Linked DNA regions of Homo sapiens. The protein of the gene in region 3 interacts with the protein of the main gene of each other region in a biochemical or structural test. Each region holds a gene or a part of one and is shown on either strand. Other genes may lie near its edges. The genes, in order: DRP2, SYNM and DTNA.

The links.
Region 1: the proteins of DTNA (region 3) and DRP2 form a complex in vitro, tested with the Homo sapiens proteins (one study listed by BioGRID and IntAct).
Region 2: the proteins of DTNA (region 3) and SYNM form a complex in vitro, tested with the Homo sapiens proteins (one study listed by BioGRID).

Annotation. Positions count from the first base shown.
Region 1 is NC_000023.11:101,257,717-101,264,826, reverse strand, and holds the end of DRP2 (dystrophin-related protein 2), read right to left. Parts: intron 6,519-7,110; coding exon 6,281-6,518; intron 4,779-6,280; coding exon 4,658-4,778; intron 4,331-4,657; coding exon 4,206-4,330; 3' UTR 325-4,205; downstream 1-324. UniProt on the Homo sapiens protein: Required for normal myelination and for normal organization of the cytoplasm and the formation of Cajal bands in myelinating Schwann cells.
Region 2 is NC_000015.10:99,108,031-99,115,140, reverse strand, and holds part of SYNM (synemin), read right to left. Parts: intron 1,551-7,110; coding exon 1,426-1,550; intron 1-1,425. UniProt on the Homo sapiens protein: Type-VI intermediate filament (IF) which plays an important cytoskeletal role within the muscle cell cytoskeleton.
Region 3 is NC_000018.10:34,811,267-34,818,376, reverse strand, and holds part of DTNA (dystrobrevin alpha), read right to left. Parts: intron 6,419-7,110; coding exon 6,264-6,418; intron 2,469-6,263; coding exon 2,363-2,468; intron 416-2,362; exon of another isoform or gene 214-415; coding exon 47-213; exon of another isoform or gene 1-46. UniProt on the Homo sapiens protein: May be involved in the formation and stability of synapses as well as being involved in the clustering of nicotinic acetylcholine receptors.

The DNA.
Region 1 (7,110 bases), on a different chromosome or scaffold from region 3:
TTTCTTACAATGCTTCAGGCTGGTGAAAAACCCTCAGATTGAGGAGGATGAAATTTAGAAACGATTGCTACATACAGCTCATCTCATAAGGCGCTAACTAGCTAATTTGGGGAGGGCTGGGAGGATGTTGAGAGGTGATTAATCCGGGTAACAGTGGCAGATGAGCCCAATGGGGAGGTCTTTTTGTGTCCCACAGGTGTTGGACTCATCTGGTAGCCTTATGTTTTACAGTACTTCTGTGGCTTCTTGGTCTACCCTCTCTTCCCACCCCCAAATAAGGGAAAGATATGAAATATCAGACTCAGAGAGTATAACCAGAGGAACCAAAGTAAACAAGTACAAATTTATTCTTTTCAAAGCAGAATTCAAGGGAAAGGGGGAAAGCACCACAGTGAGTGGCAATCAAAGTTAACCAATTTGTTCCCAACCCTGTCCCTTTGTCCCCTAGACTTCCATGCCACCCTTGTCACCTCCCCCAAATCCTTTCCCCAATTTTCATCCTGTGACCAGTTCTTGTAGCCAGCAAGCAGCATACCAGACTTCGGTCAGGCCTCAATACTGCCATAGGGGACAGCAAGGGCATTCAGCAGGCCCCCTCTCAAATGTGGCAACTGTGGGAGAAGATGGACTCTGCGAGCTGAGCCCTGGCCTTGAGCCTTTCCTTCTCCCACAGCCATTGGTGTTAAAAGAGTAAGAAGTAGCTAAAGTGTTCCTTGTTCCTACGGGAACCACCCAGCTGAAGAATTAAGTCTCCACAGCCTCAGGACAAGGCCCCCAGTTTTTTTCCCAGAACTGTTCGAGTTAAGGCAGCTACTTTCTTGCTTTTCTGTCATCTATGTGAAGGGAAATTGGATGGGATTTTTGGCCTTGAAATGGTGCCACAGACCATGACTCTGCCACTGAGAATGTGAGTTCAAATGCTGGATATAGAGCCCAAATCTCAAGCACACACATCAGGAAGCACAGATATTCCTTAAAATGAATCTGGAGGGAAAACATCTCCTAGGATTGGCCTCTTCCTGGCCTCAGGGTTTCTCATTTCTGTGTCCTGCCAACCCATTTCCTGGAGCACCAGAAACTCAAACAGATTTCTCTGTAGGGAAATAGTTCCCAACCTTGGACCTTGAAGAAAATGAGCACTTGAAACTCTTGATTCTAGCCTTTCTAATCTGGAGGGAAGGGCACATGTCCTCCCTAGGGAAGCATAGCACAGCCTGATGTCCTCCAGCTAGTCAGCCTTCCGTGACAATGCCCAATCAATGTGAATCCACTCTGCTGTCACTGGAAGCAGAGGTATCCTCGTAATGGCTTTTTGGCCTCTATCAAATTCTGTCAAGAAGAAATCACCTCTCAGTCCTAACTGTTCTCTGATACTATTTGACAACAACCCCAGCAAATGCTCACATTCCTTATCATTGATGCTAATCCCACAGTCAGAAGGTTTTCTTTAGGCTATCAATCTAGCAACTCCCTTCACCATCCTTCCAGTGTAGGGCTATAAACTACACAGTGCCATGCACAATATCCTTAGAAGACTAATACACAACAAGATGTCTAACAACATACAACACATTTTGGTAAATCCAACCCCAAGTTGGATTCATAGTACCCAAGGATCCATTTACCTTACTGTGGGAAAATTCCCCACACATACTGCAGTGACTGTCCCTGGACCCTTGAACAATACACTCACCTTAGGCATTAAGGTAAACACAGGACCACAAAATGTCAGTGACCCCTTAGTGAGAATTCAACTCTTGACCTGCTGCTTCAGTCCACCTACAACGCAAATCCTACATAACAAGATCTACATCTTTTCTACCATGCCTGGCCCACTGCAGTTGCCACAGGCCCTCAGCAGCCCAAGAGCTCTCAGGTGGGGTGGGGATAACAGAAAAGATTTTCCAGGACTTTCCTGGTAAAAAATTGCTCCATAACATGTACCCGCCTAAGGCTTAGGCAGGCATATGCCTCCAAAGTCCTTGAGCCCTCCGTCCCACATTCCCGCCCACAATCTAGGCTTCTACAAATATGCTCCCACTCTGACTGATGCCCAGGTTCTATGATTGATGCCCGCCTACCACCTGCTCAACCATCTATCCAGATACCCAGTTCTCCTGCCCAGAGACCTCATGAACACTAAGGCAGATGTTATGCTGTGAAGTCTGACACCCTGGACCTGTGACTTAGTGGTGGAGGAGGCAACCCTAAGCTTCTGGACCCAAGCCACTGCCCTGCCTCCCCTGCAGCAGATCAAACTAGGTTCCTAGCAGTTCTACCCACTGGCCCACTGCTGGATTATAATACAACACCCCAACCGTCACTCCCTCCTGATTGTGGTGGCAACTGTTGCTTTCTTTAGCCCTGAGTGAGACCATAAGAGCTGGAAGGGACCAGAGAATGTTCTCTGTGTCTTAGCTGGCAAAGGCTAATAAAGGCCTGTTTGTCCTTTTCTGCATGGGGTGGGCAGAGCTTGGGTTTGCTCTATTTTGGCACCTGAACCATTTAGGGGAGCCCAGGAAAATTCACCCAAGGCCCAGGTCTCAAGGGAACAAGATTTGGAATGAGTGAAGAGAACAGTGACTCTTCCTGTTAGATTCTCTGTGACCACAGGTTTCTGTTGCTTTGGTCTTGAGGACAGCCCACCCCAAACATCAATGGAGAGAGATATCCTAGGGGAACAGCCAGGATACATCTATCTTTCCAACCAGAGGCTGGGGCTAACAAAGAGCAAGGCAGAACATTAATACTTCAAGAGGTATTAGAATTTAATGTGTGAGTGAGGCCAGGAGAGCACTGATGTACAGTAGATATGTAGAATAGATATGTATGTATATAAACTTAGGCAAATGAAGTCAACTGCAGGGCTCTAGGTTATAAAGCTCCTCTTGGGAGAAAGCTGCCTAAGTGGGCTCTGAATCTATTCAACATTCCCAAGCCCACTCCCCCACCCCTACTATCTATTCTGAACAGTTTCTGGATAAAGAGATCATGGTATATGTCGCCTAGGAAGAGCTAGTTCAGTTTGAGGATTGGATTCACCTTCCAGAGTTAGAAATAACAATTTTAGGCACAGGAAGGCCTTGCTGTTGTTGTCTGGGTGGAAAGTGGCCAGCTTCCTGATTTGTGGCCTGTGGCTCCTATGGAGGGGCCACTACACACGGTAGCCAGTTGCAAATGCCTTATGATTAGCTGGGGACAATCAGCCACCTCACCTGATTCAGCCTGAGAGCTAGAAGGGTCACAGCCTGGAAGGGTGTTGGATGGCAGTCATACTACTCCAGACTTGAGGTGGGCTTCCTCTTCCTTACCCAAGGAAAGCAACACTCCCTTGCTCAGCAAGCTGCCACTGTGTCCTCAGGTCTGTGAGGACAGACTCAGAGGAGCAAAGGGTGGCTTCAGCCAGGTTTCCAGAGCAACTCGCAACTCAGTGGGTCTCTCAAAATGCTGAGGACTTTAAGAAATAGGAAGATGTGGGGCAAAAAAAAAATCTAAACCCATAAGTATGGATTTAATGCTTCCAAATATAACGTAGAAGAACCAGAATGAACTGTTCTCCCCTTAAGGAAGGTCTGTCAGGGACTGAGGCTAAAGAAAATGAAGATATTTGAGGAGAAACCAATACCTAGGTAGCATTAGGATGGCTAGCAATCTGTCCTGGAGCTGAAGTAATAGAACACACACTGCCCAGACTTTTTCAGGGGCACTTGGGGTGGGGAAGGTGTCTCGGGGATACCCTTTTGCCTCCCTGAGTTGCGCCAGAGAGTAGGGGTAAACCCTGTGGATTCATAATGCTGGATGGAACCTTGGGGTAATTAGGCTTCTCTCTTTCCATAATTCCACGGAGAAGGAAGAGGGGCCAACATGTACCGCTTAGCTCTGCAAGGCAGCTTCTCTGCTCCCCATCTGAATGGCCAAGTGATATTTGCCTGGGCTGCAACAGAAAGGTACTTAAAGGGCTGATCTCGAACTTGAAGATTAAAGGGAACATTTCTAGGGTCAGAAGAATCATGCCTCCCCTTCTCCCATCACTGCCCGCATGCACCTCACATACCACCAGATCCCTGCTGCTGCCCAGAGCCCAAATAATACTAGTTGAGGAATGTGGGGCCAGTGGAAACTGGAAAGGTTGGGTGAAGGCTGAGGAAAGGCTTTGACCGGAACCAGGAGAGGACTATGAACTATAGGATGGGGATCTGGCTCCATCAAGAGGCCAGCAGGGTGTTGGCAGTCACATCAGAACTTCGCACACTGGGGAAGGCATGACGGAGTTTCTCCATGATGTCCTCCAAGCACAGGCTGACATCCTGGCTCTTTGACCCCACATCATCTGGGTTAAAAAACAGAGATTTGAGAAGAGAACTAGAGACTCCTTTATGAGGCCAAGGGGTCAGATAGAATTCTGCCAGCTGAAGGGCAGACCTGCCCGCAGCATTTGCATCTTCCCAGCACAATGCCTAATACATAGGTTGTGCTCAATGTATATTTATTTGTGGAATAAGCATATGAATTAATCAATCAGTAAACCAATCATCCCTGACCCTAAGCACAAAGCCAAGAGGAGAAACCAGTCCCAGCCCCGCAAAGCCTTGGGCAGGAAATCGAGGGCAGGACAAAGCCATGGAGAAAGGGGCTGGGAAAGGCCAGGGGAACTCACCTGCAGCCTCGGTATCTGGAGTAGTCTGTCCCTTCTCCCGGGGGTGACTGCCTTCTGACTGCTGTGGAGAGGAAGCTAGGGACGAGCCTGCAGAGCCACTGCCATCTGATTCGGTGGGTGGCTAGCAAGAGGTAAGGCATGACTTAAGTGGATTTGCCTTCCTGACCTTACTCTGACAGACTCCTGAGCTTAGAAGGGACCTGAGAGACTTCATACCATCCCTTTACCCTTAGACTTTAAGAAGCTTTTGGTATTACCTAAAACAGTGGCTTCCACTTTTAGGAAACTTCTTAGAATATTGAATTACCCATTACCTTCTTCCTTTAACAACATGTGTCAAAGGCTCCCAGTTCTTATAAGAATGGCATTGTAGGCTGGGCGCGGTGGCTCACGCCTGTAATCCCAGCACTTTGGGAGGCTGACGCAGGCGGATCACCTGAGGTCAGGAGTTCAAGACCAGCCTAACCAACATGGAGAAACCCCGTCTCCACTAAAAATACAAAATTAGCCGGGCATGGTGGCCCATGCCTATAATCCCAGCTACTTGGGAGGCTGAGGCAGGAGAATCGCTTGAACCTGGGAGGCGGAGGTTGCAGTGAGCTGAGATCGAGCCATTACACTCCAGCCTGGGCAACAAGAGCCAAACTCTGTCTTGAAAATTAATTAATTAATTAATTAATTAAATAAAGAATGGCATTGTACCTAAAGGTCTCTTGCTGTCATTTCAGCTATAATTAAGCTATTTAGAACACAATTCTCTCTGGAAATGTAGAGTTTCACACCTGATCCTTGGTTCATGACATAGCATATGTTAGAAACCTCCAGGAATCCATAGAGGCCATTCCTTGGAGGATCTGGGGAAGAGGCAGAAGAGTGGTATTTTCCATTACATATAATGACAATAATAGGTAACATTTATGAAGTGTGTACTAAATTCCTGGCATCATGCTAAATTCCATAAATGCATTATCTCCTTTTATGTTCACCACAATTCTATGAAGTTGGTACTGTTACCATCTCTGTTGTACAGATGAGGAAACTGGGGCTTAGAGAGGTTAACTAACTGTCCAAACACCCCACAGTCAATTGGCAGAGCCACATGCAAACCCAGAGCTGCCTGACTCCAGAGCTTTACCACAGCATACACATTGCCTCTCAGAGATGAAAGGTGCAAAAAGTAACAAGAAACACCTTTAGATAGCACTAATCTTTCTCTTGCCAAACTTGTCCCAACCCACTTCTTTCTAGCAAATACCATACTAGCAAAATCAATGTTTTAGATGATTTTTGAAGTTTGTTCTTTTAGTATGGGATTCCAATGGGTTGTGAAGAAATAAGCCCTCAGAAGTCTTCTCTCTGCCCCAGGCCCCACAGTGGCTGGAGAGTGACACACAGGGTGGCATGGAAGGTAGGTGGAAGAGAGTTGGCTGAAGATGTGACCATACCAGTCTCTTCTTTCCCCCGCCCCCCCACCAACCGCAGGCCCAGTTCTCTTCAGGAAGTTACCTGACAGCCACTGCCAAGGAGCTCTCTCTTGTGTCTTCTTTGCCACAGCCCTCAGCTCCCCAGCCCTTCCCCTGGGCTCAGAGGCCACCCTGGCTCTTTTCCTGTCTCCATCCTCACCTGCAGGAGAAGCTCCCTCAGACGCTGCAGCTGGGACTCTAGCTGCTTGTTGTGATCTTCGAGGATCTGCATGCGCGTCTCCAGGCGGCTCTTATGTTGCCGAAGGATACGGGCCTCGGCCAGAAGCTCCTCATTGCGGTGGTCTGTTGCTGCCTCAGTGGAGCCGTCAGCCAGACTGGGTGCCTCAGCTGCCTCCTCATGCTGCCACTTCAGGCGCCTCAGCTCTCCCTGGAGAATCCTGCCATGGAGAGAGACACCAAGACCTATGGCTCTAACAGGGCTCTGACTGTCCAGGTTTCAGATGTCCCCTCAGGCCTAGGTGTGAACAATCCCTGTGCTCTTCCACCCTACCTCACCCCCACCCCCATCCCCACCCCCAGCTGTGCTCTTGCTTGAATGGCCACATCCACTTCCTCTCCAGCACATATGTCATTTACTCTGCCATCCTGAGACCTCAGAGCAGAGAAAGTTGACATTTTGCGTAAGAAATGTCTCAGGGCTTTGATGTGCTGCTTTAGGGATTAATTCTGACCTTAAAATCAGGCAGAAACACAGTCTGCAAATAAAGGAGGCATTAGGGCCACTGACTCACCTACTCCATTTTTAGATGTTTAGATTCCAAGGGAAAACATAACATAAACAAGAGACCACCTGTCTTGCCTCTTCTCTCCACAATCCTCCTCTTTGGCCCACTTTGAACACCCATGCTGGGTCATCAAAAAAACAAATTCCAAACAGGTGGCCTACTTTTGGGGATATCACTTTTGGCTTTGTTCGTTTTTTCTTTATTTGCAACAGAACAGTCACTCTCAGCCCAGTGTTTCCCAGGG
Region 2 (7,110 bases), on a different chromosome or scaffold from region 3:
GGTGGGGATGGCACAGCTTTGGCACCAGACCTGGCTGGCTCTGCCCCTCACCAGCCTGCAGCCCCAACCTCCCGGCCTCTCTCTCTCACCTCTAAGAGGGGAGAGTGGTGCCCACCTCAGAGTTGACTCGGAGCAGAGAATAGTGGCAAAGAACTCAGCACCACGTCTGGCAGGCAGTAAGGACGCCATAAAGCTGGCTATTGTTAGTGTTCCTGAAGTTGGGCAACTGGGTCTCTAAAATTCCTTCCACTGTAAGCGTCACAGACCCTGGCTCCTTCATAGCTGCCCTGAGCATGAGAGCTGCCAGGAAACAAGGGGCACCACCTCAATCAAAGACGCACTGGCACCCAGGGGAAAGGAGGGTGATGCCAAGGAGGGGAGGAGCACTGTTCCGCCGGCCTGCAGGCCACACCCAGGGGGACTGGACTGCATTCTCTGCCCCACCCAGCACCCAGCCCCTTTGAGCGCTTTGTGACCTTTTCATCAGAGTTGGTTACCTTGAACTCAAGTCAACATCTTGATACATAAAGCCAGTTGGCCTACATTAGCATGCACCATGCTAATCTCTTGGAAGAGATTCAGTTCAGGGCCAAACCCACACAGGGTGGCATCAGAGCCCTGAGATTCAAAGCAACAATCAAGCAGATAGACACAGACTTCCTGGGTCCAAATCCTGTGACACGGTTTGGCTCTGGGTCCCCACCCAAACCTCATCTCGATTTGTAACCCCCACGTGTTGAGGGAGGGACCTGGTGGGAGGTGACTGGATCATGGGAGCAATTTTCCCCACGCTGTTCTCATGATAGGGAGTGAGTTCTCATGAGATCTGATGCTTTAAAAGTGGCAGTTTCCCCTGAGCTCTCTCTCTCTCCTGCCACCTTCTGAAGAAGGTTCTTGCTTCTCCTTTGCCTTCCGCCACGATTGTAAGTTTCCTGAGGCCTCCCCAGCCCTGCGGAATAACTGTGAGTCAATTAAACCTCTTTCCTTTGTAAATTACCCAGGCTCAGGTAGGATCTTTATAGCGGTGTGAAAACACACTAACACATCCTGGCCCTCCACTTTCCAGTTCTGTAACTTCTCTGAGCAAAGTCTGTTCATCTGTAAACACAGTCTCCAGTTCCTAGGATCCAACACGTTGACATGTGTGAAGCTCTTCAGCAGTCCCCAGAACATACAAACACTAGGTAAGGGGGCACGGCTCAGCTACTCCCTTGCTGGAGACACCTGCTCAGTGACCTAAGCAAGCCCTACTCTTCCTCTTCCTTTTGGCCTCGGACTCCTTGCCTGGCCATGCCAAGGGCTGCTCTCTGCTTGTCACAAAGCCACAGTGACTCCACAAAGGCTACGGTCCCTAGACCAGTTTCCTTCATGTGCAAGTTACACCCCCATGGCTTCGTCAAGGCCAACTCAGCACAGTCTCCTTACCGGTAGGTCGCCACCTCCAGACTGAGGCCGGTCTTCACCTGCAGGAGGTCCTGATAGTCCCGCAGCCAGTCAGCCATGGCCAAGGTGAGGGTTGCCTTCTCATCCTCCAGGCAGTCAATCACTCTCTAAAGAGAATAGACAGACTTTTATATCAGAGAACTGGAGCTTTACTGGGTCGAACTGAAGGTACCAACAATTCAGGATCGAATTGAAAAACAGACCAGGGTTATTAGCAGACCAGAAAAACACCCGGCGTTATTAAACATGCAGTCACTTGCAGGATGGTTTCCAATGTTGTATCTCTTCCATATGGAAGTTTTTTATTGCATGTGGAACATTTTGATAGGACACTGGCTTCTCTGTTCAGACTCTCTATTAATAATGAATGCTTAGGAGTTTATTCAAATCATCTCTACCGTTTAGACATCAGGCTGCTTAGGAGAGCCAGTGCTTCAAACCAGTCACTAAGACGCTATGGAAAATAAGCCAAGACTAGAAATCAGGGGTTTTACAATATTCAAAACATAAGTCACTCAGAATTGAACTGAAATGTACTCCCCAAAGTCATGATTTCTCCAACAATAAGCAGGTAAACTGATACAGAGTTTTGTTTCACTTAGAAAAGCTACTTTAAGATCATCTGGGGAGAAATGCATTCTGGGCATAAATGACAAACTACAGACTCAGATATAAAACTTCTTTTTGGGCCTAGCGTGGTGGCTCACACCTATAATCCCAACACTTTGGGAGGCCGAAGCGGGCGGATCACTTGAGGTCGGGAGTTCGAGACCAGCCTGGCCAATATGGCAAAACCCTGTCTCTACTGAAAATACAAAAAATAGCTGGGCATGGTGGCGCAGACCTGTAATCCCAGCTACTCAGGAGGCTGAGGAACAGGAATCACTTGAACTCAGTAGGCGGAGGTTGCAGTGAGCCAAGATCATGCCACTGCACTCCAGCCTGAGCGACAGAGCGAGACTCCACCTCAAAAAATAAAATAAAAATAAATAAAACTGCTTTATGAACCGTAATTGCACAGTGCAGCTAGTAAGGGCGTCCTGGGTGCTCCTCGCAGCTCCCCTCACCCCTGGCCGGGTCCCCGACCTGCCTCTCTACCTGGCAGGGAGATACTGCGGCCTTCTGAATCCCAGACCTAGACCAGTGCCCACCACATACAAGTCACACAGCACATAGCTGCTCAATTAAATTTAAAATGAAATGATCAAGATCATATCACCCTCCTCAAAATGTACTATTTGAAGTCGACAGTATCTTCTCAAACAAACATATGGGCTTCAGCTGCACCGATTTCCAGTTTTGTTTTATTCCTAGTTGTTAGTTACTCTGGGGAACAATTAACCAAGCAAGTATTTAAACATTGAAATAAGTCCATGTACTTTTAACTTCTGGTTTGTAATGGGAAGTAGCATTATTTCTGAACATCATTAACTAAACTAAGCTAGACCTATAAACATTTATCTTTGTAGAATTCAAAAACGGTAAGACTACTGGGAGAGGGAATATTATGTTCATTGCTGCTGGAATCCCTTCACCAAAGGCACCCGGCAAGATGCTGAGGGTCCATAATAAATATGTCTGTGAAACCAAGGAATGAACTCTACAAGATTGCACATGGAATTTATCTTTTTGGTTGTTTTGTTTGTTTTTGGAGACAGTCTCGCTCTGTCACCGAGGCTGGAGTGCAATGGCACAATCTCGGCTCACTGCAGCCTCCACCTCCCAGGTTCAAGTGATTCTCCAGCTTCAGCCTCCCAAGTAGCTGGGACTGTATACAGGCGCCTGCCATCACGCCCAACTGATTTTTGTATTGTTAGTAGAGACGGGGTTTCACCACGTTGGCCAGGATGGTCTTGAACTCCTGACCTCAGGTGATCCTCCCGCCTCAGCCTTGCAAAGTGCTGGGATTATAGGCACAAGCCACTGCACCCAGCCAGAATTTATCATTTTTTAAAATGCATGATCAGCCAATAAATATTCCCACTTCTCATAACAGTTCTATTTCTATGCCAATGATGGCTGTTAGGTTCCCTGAATATAAAGGGTCCTGAAGTAGTTTAAAACCCCTTAGCTTTTAAAGCAAAGAAGTAAACTTAAAAATCACTGGCTTATGTCCCAGGGTGGAAAAACGATAACAGATCCCACAGCTGGCATTACAAACAGAGAAGCTCACCAAAGAGCAACTGCCAGTCTTGATGTAAGTGACAGCACTGCCACAATTTAGCCACAATATTCACACATTCTAGAGTTAAATCTCAATGTCAAAATCCTACATTCCCCTGTTTTAGAGGGAATACAATTCAGGTACAAGGTTCTCATACAAGATGGGCTGTAGGTATGCATGTATGTATGTATGTGTGTCCTTCCTACTACAGGAAATTTGACATAACTATTACAAATTAAAAATTTATAGTAATTTATTCCTTACAAAGAAGTTCAAATGTTGTTAAACTGCTTAGAAAAAAAATACGATGAAAGCTCTCCAACCACAAACCTCCTGAGCAGGTCAAGAAAGCCTAGTCACGTGGAAGGGGTGTGCAGGAAGATACTCCTCCCAGAGCACACAGAATAGTTCTGCACCCACAAAATACAAAGAGGAAAATCAAACTGTGTTGAAGTTGGAATAAGTACAGTTTCAGTCACATTTCCATGTGAGTCAGCTCCTCCTAAATTGTCAAAGGAAAATTAGTTGACGTTTGGAAGCAGGAATATAAGACTTAACTGGCTCCCAGTGGTCTCTGCAGAAATCACAACAAATCCTGCTGTGGAATAAAACTTCAGACTTGGGCTCTGCTTGGCCAGTCAGCAAGCTGTGGGTCAGGACAGAGGCACTGGAGCCCCAGACACGGGACGCTACATCTCACCCGAGCAGAGGCAGTTTCACCTAATGCTGCAAAAGCTTGGGAGAGAGGTCACCTTTTTGCTATTTAGAGAACTTTTGGGCAGCATCACAACCGATGATGAAATCTTGCTCCACACCAGGAAAGGCATGCTGCTGTCAGTATCAAAAGAATTAATTTTCTCTTAGCCAAACTTGAGCTACCGCTCACTGAGCAAGCCTGTGGGACAGTTCACAAATATCACTGTCATTTGCAACCTTGAAAGGTAGAGCTCCAGGGGATTTAAATACTGTGATAACTTCAGCTACACACAAAAATTAAATGTATTCATAACAATAAGCACGAACTGGATGCCGACGAAGTATTTATAGCTTAGCCCAGACAGCACCCTGAACTCAAGTTATATTTTACAATTCCAGGTGGGTGTGTAAGAAGCATCTCAAACTGAACACACGTACATGGAACTTGAATCTCCCACCCAGGCCCGTCCTCCTAACCAATGCCCCGCAGTAAAGCGTATAAGAGGTACCGGAAGTAGCTCCCAGGGTGTATACAATTGGTTCATTCGTTCAACTACCAGCCGTTGAGCATTTAGTGTGCCAAGCGCAGTTCTTCATGGCTGCGGATTCAGCAGTGAAAAATGCCACGTAAAACAAGGAAAGTCCCTTCTTCCAGTTGCTCAGGCCACAACGCCTGAAGTCCACTGTGATTTCTCCCTCTCCCATCACATTCAATCTGGCAGCAAATGCCGTTGGCTTCAACTTGAACGCAGGGGCCCCTCTGAGACCCCTGGTCCAAGCCTCGAGCACTTCCTGCCTGGGTTACTGCAACAATCTCTGAAGGCATCCCTGAGTCCACTCAGTCTATTTTTAAAACAGCAGCAACAGTGATTCCACTAAGCCACAGCCAGGCCCCAACTCTCCTCGGCTCAGAACCTCCAGTGGCTTCCCATGGCACTCAAAGTAAATGCCCAAGTCCTGCAGTGGCCACTCTACCCCCTGTTCACTGTGCCCTAGCCACACCGGCAGCCTGGCTGAGGCATCCCCGAAAAACCACACGCTGTTTCCACCTGAAGGCCTCTCAGGTCAAGGGACTTTCTTTGTTTTACGTGGCATTTTTCACTGCTGAATCTGCAACCATGAAGAACTGAGCTTGGCACACTAAATGCTCAACGGCTGTTAGCTGAACGAATGAACCAGTTGTACACACCCTGGGAGCTACTTCCAGTACCTCGTTTCACAAATGGGGAAACTGAATTGCAGACAGGTTAAGGAACGTAACCTGCCCAAAGAGCGGCAGAGTCAGAATTCAGGGCCAGGTAGGACAGCTGCAGAGCACTGACCCTTAGCTAATCCCATCCTAATCCCACCCCACCTTCCCATCTACAAAAAGCTTTCATTCAATCATGTTTTGGGGGCTTGGAAGCCTTTTCCAGTCAGCCTCAGCAGCTAAGGGCTCACTTTCATAAGCAAAAATCTCCGTGTTTGCAGGGTGAAGCTGGTCTCCACTTTATCGCAAATGTCTTCAAGTGTTTTCTGAAGCCCCCTCCTGCAGCCTGGGTGTGTCACTCAGGCTTCAAGTGATCTAGATCACATTTGGGAACTTGGATGTCAGTTCAGCAAACTCTTCTCGGGCAAATCTGAGGCCAGGCCTGGGGCAGGCCAATGACTACCGCCTCATACAGTGAAGGCGCATGGGCCATCTGGGAAGGACCAGTTTCCCCTCAAGTAGAATCCTAGCAAGCATCTTCCCCCTTGAGCCACAGAAGCTATAGCCAGAGGCAGGGAGAGCTGGGCACAATGTGGCAGCACCCTCTGCTGCCTCCAGCTCCTGCCTCCAGGGGAGGGGGGCATTAAAGCACATGGAACACAGAAAAAAAGAAATGAAAGAAAATAGTTTTAATGCCAAAACTATTCAGCCAGCTGGAGGGGTCTAAAAGCATTTTAGGACTTGAAATCAGCAGAGTACCTCGGGCTAGCCCTTAGGAAGAGCAATTATCATTATGCTATGAATGCAAGAATACTGGTTAAAGGTTTCTCTCTGATCAAACAGACAGAAGAGAGAAACGGACGCCCAGCGGTCAGTTGCTCAGGCACTAGAGCCTGAGTTGAATCCTGGCTTAACTACTTACTAATCAGGTGACTTATGTGCCTCAGCTTCCTCCTCTGTAAAATGGAGCTTATATTAGTACCCACTTCGTAACACTGGTGTGGGCACTGAGAGTGAATATTTGTGAAGGGCATCTGTGGTACCTGGCACACACGAAGCACTTGCTAAAGGCTCTTAGTAATAAGATATTTATTACCATATACTAATTCAACCCATTTTTAGGATTTTTTCACTCTCCCCATAGTAAGCTTCTACAGAACCCGAAAAAAATTACAGGCTTGGGGTTAAATCATCCATACTCCCTCTTTCACATACTTCCTAGCATCTCTGTGATTGGTGCTGAATCTTCTGGAATGCAATTTGAAATGGAGTTGACTTAAGTTAACTGAGGGAAGATTCAGTATATGGACAAGGTAGTGACTGGTAACACTTAGTGCAGTAAAACCTCTGCAAATTGGAACTGGAAAAAAAAAATGGCCGGGCACATGGCTCACACCTGTAATTTCAGCACTGTGGGAGGCCACGGCCGGTGGATCACTTGAGGTCAGGAGTTTGAGACCAGGCTGGCCAACATGGTGAAACCCTGTATCTACTAAAAATACAAAAATTAGCCAGGCGGGGTGGTGGGATCCTGTACTCCCAGCTACTCGGGAGGCTGAGGCACGAGAATCACTTGAGCCCAGGAAGCGGATGTTGCGGTGTGCCGAGATCAGCCACT
Region 3 (7,110 bases):
AACACTCACACATCCAACTCCAAGTATTGCCTGGACCTTGCCTTACCCATGACGTGTACTCTTTCATTTGGTGCTGGTTGCTATGAGAACCACCGGCATGTCCCCTCCAGAAGCAGTCCTGACAGAGCTGGTAATTGTGACACTGTTGGCATCGGTAGCGAAATCCCATCATACTCTCACTGTGGCAGTAGGAACACTCAACCGGATGGAAGACTAAGGGGGAAGTAAGTGAAGAAAAACCAAGAAAACAAAAGTATGAACCAGAAGAAGGAAAAATACAGCCTTACAGGAATTGCACCTTTCTTCTCTGCACCACGATTTCAGATGATAGTTGATTTGGGCTCAGAGAAACATTTAGTTCATTCCTGGAATCTTACAACCCTTTTCAATCATGCCTGTGGGGAAATGAAATGAAATGGGATGGAGAAGAGGTGTCCTTTTAACAACAAAAATCTCTGTAATGCCATTTGCTCTTTCTATTCCCATCTCTCACATTACAAGAATTTAAATTAGCCAAACAGACTTGCCTTTACCCCAAACTGCTCTCTGTCTCCAGGAGACCAGCACAGCTCACTGGAAGACTCAGAAGCACAAGGGGTGAATGCTGATTGTCCAGTGGGAAGAGAGCGAATATCAGAGACACGGAGAATGAGAGGAAGAAAAAAGAAAGGAAGATGGGCAGAGAATGGAAAACTGGTGTGGATGAGATAATTAAGTTATTTTTTAAAAAATAGAGTGACTAATGGCTTACTTAACGAGTGGTGTTGCCTACATCTGACAAACAGATTTTTTTTTCTTTCCTGAGGCAGGTGTATAGGGCCCTAAAAAAGATGTGCAAATTATCTGAAAACAGTTCTAAATAATTCAAATGCCTCAAGAGACGGTTAACTTTCTTTGGTAGGAAATTTGAATTATAAAGCAGGCAAAGCAAAATACTAGATTTGAAGCAAAGTAAAATATTAGATTTAAGTGATCAAATCCAAGTAATTGTCTACATGCTATGAGCTAGATACTAAAACAACAATAACAATTCTTGCCTTTGGTAAAGCTATTCTCCGGCCTAACCAGTCAGGAAAAACAATGAAAATAATAATAAATGAAGATAAAAAGCAAAGTGTAAAAACAAAGACATAACTAGCTCTGGACGCATTGTCTTCTAAACAAGTGTCATAACCTTTCTTCCCGGCTCTTGAGAAAGACTAGAGTGGGACTTCAATCTAGGGACAACTGTTCTGGGATGGTGCCTAAGAAACTGATCTCCTGCAGCAGGAAATGCTGAGAGAGAACGAAAGAAATTATAGCTTTATGATTGGAAAATGACTAGTTCTAGAACTGTAAACAGTAACGTGAACTCATTTTGCATAATAACATGGACCTTGATTGCTCTTCGCTTCTGCATATGGATAAACATAAAAAAACTATGATTGTTAGTGATTGCAAAAAAATAAAATAAATTCATTCTTTAAATTTTCTCCATGAGAAAAACAGGATAAATTCATAACTTCTAACTAACAGATAAATAAGGGCAGATGCTAAAAATTCTGAATGATAATTTAAAATTAAGCTAACTTTAGCTGCAATGTATATTAAAGAAATACACAGAAGTTGAGTAATATATAGAGACTTAAGTTAAATCTCAGTAAGAGATAGAGACTAAATTATTTCCTCGTCAAGTCTGGAGAAATTTCAGAGTTACATTGAACAATAAGTAGGAACACCTAAAGATTAGATGGAGGCACTGAACTGCTCCATGTTTAATTTTCTGTAAATTTTGCCCCAAATGGTATTTCATATTTAAATCTGGATATGCCAACAGTAGTTCCTTTTATCCTAGAAATACTTGCTTTAAAAAAAGACATGATACGAAAGTTATTTTACTCTTATCTTTAACGTAAGTACAACTATTGAAAGCTCACAATCTGGAACATATGACTAAAGATTAACAGGGTGCTATCATCTATTTTTTTTTCTCATTTCTCCCACCTATTTCTGGCTGAGTGCCTGGGAAGAAATAATCAGTACCGTGTATGCAAATATGAGAAATTCGGATCTAAAACAAATACAAAATAATGTCACACTCCTTGTTGAAGTTCGCCTTCTATCGTGCCAAGTCTTTTAACCACACCTGACTTGTAATTGAGAAGAAGACCATGAGATTTATTTTTGGAACTGACAGTCCTAATTTTTCAGTGGTCCTTTAAGGCCTTCCCGAACAGGGAGATGGGTTAGTTCTACCCTAAACAAAACTAAGAGCCACTAAATAGGCTTCCCTAAAACAACAGCCTGGGCTTACTAACTGTAGAACTAATGGCCTAATTTCAATAATTTAAAAAATCACCTTTGCTCCTTAGTAACTACTCACCATTTTCCACATTTGCTAGTCGATGCAGAAGAGGCAACCAGACCAGACACTGCGGGGGAGGATCTGACATAAGCGTGTCCAAGAAACCATTTAACGTGACTTTTTTCTGCATAAAAAAACCCCCCATAAATTTAGGACAGAGAATCATCTCAATTTACCTGCTATGTAAATATCATATCATTTGAGACTGAAACAAAAGAGCACTCAATAAATGTCTAATATCTGAAGAAACAGAACTTGCCAAATGTGTTATTAAACTAGTTTAGAACTGAAAACATCGTTTGCTTTTTATACCTAAGCAGACATAGGACTGAATTCTCTCCACTGAGGCTGAGTCAATAGTATCACCAGGAGAAAAACAATTCCAAGAGCATCATTTGTATATATGAAAGACAGTATAAAAATAATGAAGCAAAATAAAGAATGGAAATTCTCCATGGAATTTTACTCAAGAACGCATCATAGCTCACTCTACAATTTTCCTGTCAGTCAGTCTTCTAAATTTATAGAACAACTTCCCTTCTGAGCTTCCTCAACTTCCTTAAGTACTAAATATTTAGTGGTTAATGTGAATGGTTCTGTTATACAAGAGCAGGAGGGAATCCTGTTAGGACAGAACCATCTACATTTTTAAAAATTTGCTCCTTTTATTACTTTATATATAATTCCTCTCAATTCAGTCTGCTTCTTTCTCACTATCCAGGTCCTTTTGGATGTACAAAAGGAATGCATTGTATCTATAAGTTTCTTTCAAAATGATAAAAGTAAGAAAGCTATATTAATACATGTACTGTAATGGTATAAATAAAAAAATACATATTTATATGCAAAAATCACTACTTGAAATTTTGAACTAGAATATCAAAGGGGATGGGATAATTTTATTTATTTATTTTTTAAAATATTTTATTTATTTGCTTGAAAGATGGGGTCTCATTATGTTGCCCAGGCTGGACTCTAACTCCTGGTCTCAAGCTGTCTTCCTACCTCCTCCTACCTACCTCAGACTCTTGAGTAGCTGTTAATAGCCAATTCATTAAGTACAAAAATAAACTGGTCTTATTATTTTTGTGTTACCTCTTTTCATATTTGAAATGATCTTATTCATTTTGACTATTTGTCATACTTGCTAAAAAGCACTCCTGGAAGTTTCCAACAATGCTATTATGATTTCAACATGTATAAGTTGCTTATCATTAAGGATATATATAAATCATATAACAGAACAGTCTATAGGATATTTCAAAAGGAATTTTGAACATGTCAACATCACATATAATTCTTGAACACATAGGTCCTTTTTTCTCTTTTTTTTTTCTTTTAGAGACAGGATCTCACTCTGCTGCCCAGGCTGGAGTGCAGTGGCACAATTATAGCTCACTGCAACCTTGAACACCTGGGCTAAAGGGATCCTCTCATCTCAGCCTCCCAAGTAGCTGGGACTATAAGTGTGTGCCACCACACCTGGCTAATTGTTTAATTTTTTTTTTTTTTCAGAGATGAGATCTTACTATGTTGTCCAGGCTGGTCTTGAACTGCTGGACTCAAGCTCTCCTCCTGCCTCAGCCTCTCAGTGCTAGGATTACTGTGTGAGCCATCACACCAGCATAGGTCCTTTTAAGATTTTTTTTTTAAAACCCAGTCCTATTATTCTAGCTGATTTTGAATGAGACATATATTCTGAGGCATTAGCACATTTACCAATTATTCTATAATACACTAACTAAAATTCAAGAATTCAGTTATAAATGAAATTATTCTTGTTTCCATGACTGGGTGAAGTAATACAACAGGTAGTTACATTTCCTTGAGTCAGATCATCTGCATATTTGTAAATATGAACTGAAAGTGCACAAAACAAAAGCAACAACAACAAGAACACAAGAATAACATTAACAGATGGAATTAGAAGACCAGAGTTAAAAACTCAGCCCCCTGCCCTCACTAGCTATGAACTTTATATTGTTAAAAAAGAATCATATTTTCCTTGTTAGGTCACAGGGTTGTTGCAAGCCATAAATCAGATAATTCACTTTGTGAGGCATAAAGCACTGTAAAAATAAAAGGAGCCATACATTTAGCATGCCATGAGAAAAGTTGGAAAGCAGTAAAATTGAATGAAAAAATAGATTTGTGTTTTGAAGTGATTGACTTTTTTTTTTTTTTTTTTTTTGAGATGGAGTCTTGCTTTGTCTCCCAGGCTGGAGTGCAGTGGCACAATCTTGGCTCACTGCAACCTCTGCCTCACGGGTTCAAGCAATTCTCCTGCTTCTAGCTGGGACTACAGGTGCCTGCCACCATGCCCGGCTAATTTTTGTATTTTTAGTAGAGACGGGGTTTCAACATATTGGACAGGCTGGTCTCAAACTCCTGACCTTGTGATCCGCCCGCCTTGGCCTCCCAAAGTGCTGGGCTTACAGGAGTGAGCCACCTCACCCGGCCTATTGACACTTTTAAAAGTTAATTTCAGTAAAAAGAAAAGACTTCCTGACTCTTAATCCATAAAGCTGTGTAGTGAGCATTTGTTGTATGCATTTTATGGGGCAGGGATATACCTTTTTTTTTTTTTTTGAGACAGGGCCTTGCTCTGTCGCCCAGGCTGGAATGCAGTGGCGCCATCCGGGCTTAAGCTATCCTCCTGCCTCAGCCTCCTGAGAAGCTAGGACTACAAGCATGTACCACCATGCCTGGCTATGTTTTAAAAATTTTTCGTAGAAATGGGGTTTCCCTATGTTGCTCACACTGGTTTTGAACTCCTGAGCTCCTGAGCCTCGGCCTCCCAAAGTCCTGGGATTATAGGAGTGAGCCACCACACCCAGTCAAGAGGCATTTTTAGAGGACAAAAAAGTTAGTTTGGATTCTCAAAAAATGGTAAACTAACCTTTAATGTATGGATTTCTATGCTACCACTGGGCTACGCTGGAGAATGGGCCTGGAGTCTCTCTACATGACCAGAGAGGTACACACATAGATAGCCCCCTAAACTATGCAGCTTCCCAGGGTAGCTTGAGCCATACCCAGTTAAAACACATCACTTGGAACCCCAAATGTGTCATGCTGTAGAAGATTCAGGCAGCTGTGTTTACCATATTTTGGGCCTCTCAGGTCATGATGTGGCAGATGTTGGGATTCCTTTCTGGTATCCTTTGCTAAACCAATGTTAAAGCTTGTTGCCGGGTCAAGCATATATTTCACATGAGGCTGAGTGAGACAATTAAGCCCTTTTGAAAGTGCAGTGATAGTAAAAATAATGACACTGAGGGTGTAGGTGATATGGTAAGGCTTTGTGTCCCCACCCAATCCCATCTTGAACTGTAATTCCCAGGTGTTGAGGGAGAGACCTGGTGGGAGGTGATTGGATCATGGGGTGGTTCCCCCATGCTGTTTTCATGATAGTGAGGGAGTTCTCAGGAGATCCGATGGTGTTATAAATGGCAGATTCCCCTGGGCTTTTCATTCTTTCTCTTTCCTGTCGCCATGTGAAGAAGGTAGGTCTTTGCTTCCCTTCACCTTCCACCAGGATTGTAAGTTTCCTGAGGCGGAACTGTGAGTCTGTTAAACCTCTTTTCTTTATAAATTACCCAGTCTCGGGTATGTCTTTATAGCAGTGTGAAAAGAGACTAACACAGAAGGGTTGTTGTAGGGATTAAATTAGACAATGAAAGGAAAAAATTTAGCACAGTGCCTGCCTCATGGTCAGTAAACACTGTCTATTATTGTGATCCAGATGTGCTGGGTTTAGTTACTGGCTCAGAGGTCATTTGCCAGAGGCTGAAAAATACAATACAGGTTGCTATCACACAGAATAATTTGTCTGAGTATCTGTGACCTGGAATGACATCTAGAAGGAGAGCAACCACTGTTTGAAAGAGATACTTCCTTAAACATATTTTTCTCCTACCTGTTGGGAGAAACAGGATCTGGCTGACTGTTCTGTGTAACCAAATGAAGGACCTTCAAAAACTGCCGTGGGTAGTTTGAGAACTTCCCGAAGGAATTGGTCATATCGTCCATAAACCATCACCCCACTGGAGTCAGAAATCATTGAGAAAATATCTGATGAAAGGAAAAGGAAAGATATTATTCATCACATGAACATTCTCCACTGTTTTTGTTCAATATATCTGCTACAAATGACAAAAAAGTAGCAAAATAAACATTTTTTATGAAAGAATAATATAAAAGCTAATTTTTATGCTGAAATATTCCTGGCATAATGTTTTCTCTGGTTTCTTTTTGTAGATGATTCTGGCACATAGCAATCACAAGTAATTTGGGTAAAGTTAACATTTTAATGAGAGAGACACTTATTAAATGTCTTTAATAAGACACTACATTTTTGTTTTGAGGTCAACTATTAACTCTCATGTAGCTCAACAAGAGAAATTTTTGTATATATGAGAGAGACGCTGACTTCATTTGAAACACAATGAGAGTTTTACTATAAAGTTGGGGTGTGCGTATATTCATTTATCTAGCTAGAAATTTACCAATTTATATTATCACTAAAACTTTCGGATTTTGGTGTAAGATATTTGAAAATCAAAGACACGGTGAGGATAAAGATGTAATGACAAACACTTGATTAACTTCCTACAGAAGAAGAAAACTTTCTATGAATTACAGTTTTCTGGGTGGAAGGCACTTGATTTACAGGGAAGGGTTTTCTGACTCGTGTAGTGAAGAGGAAGCCTGGTCTTGTGGATGATCAATGAGGTAAAGTCAGGGTCCTGGATCTTTCTCTGAAG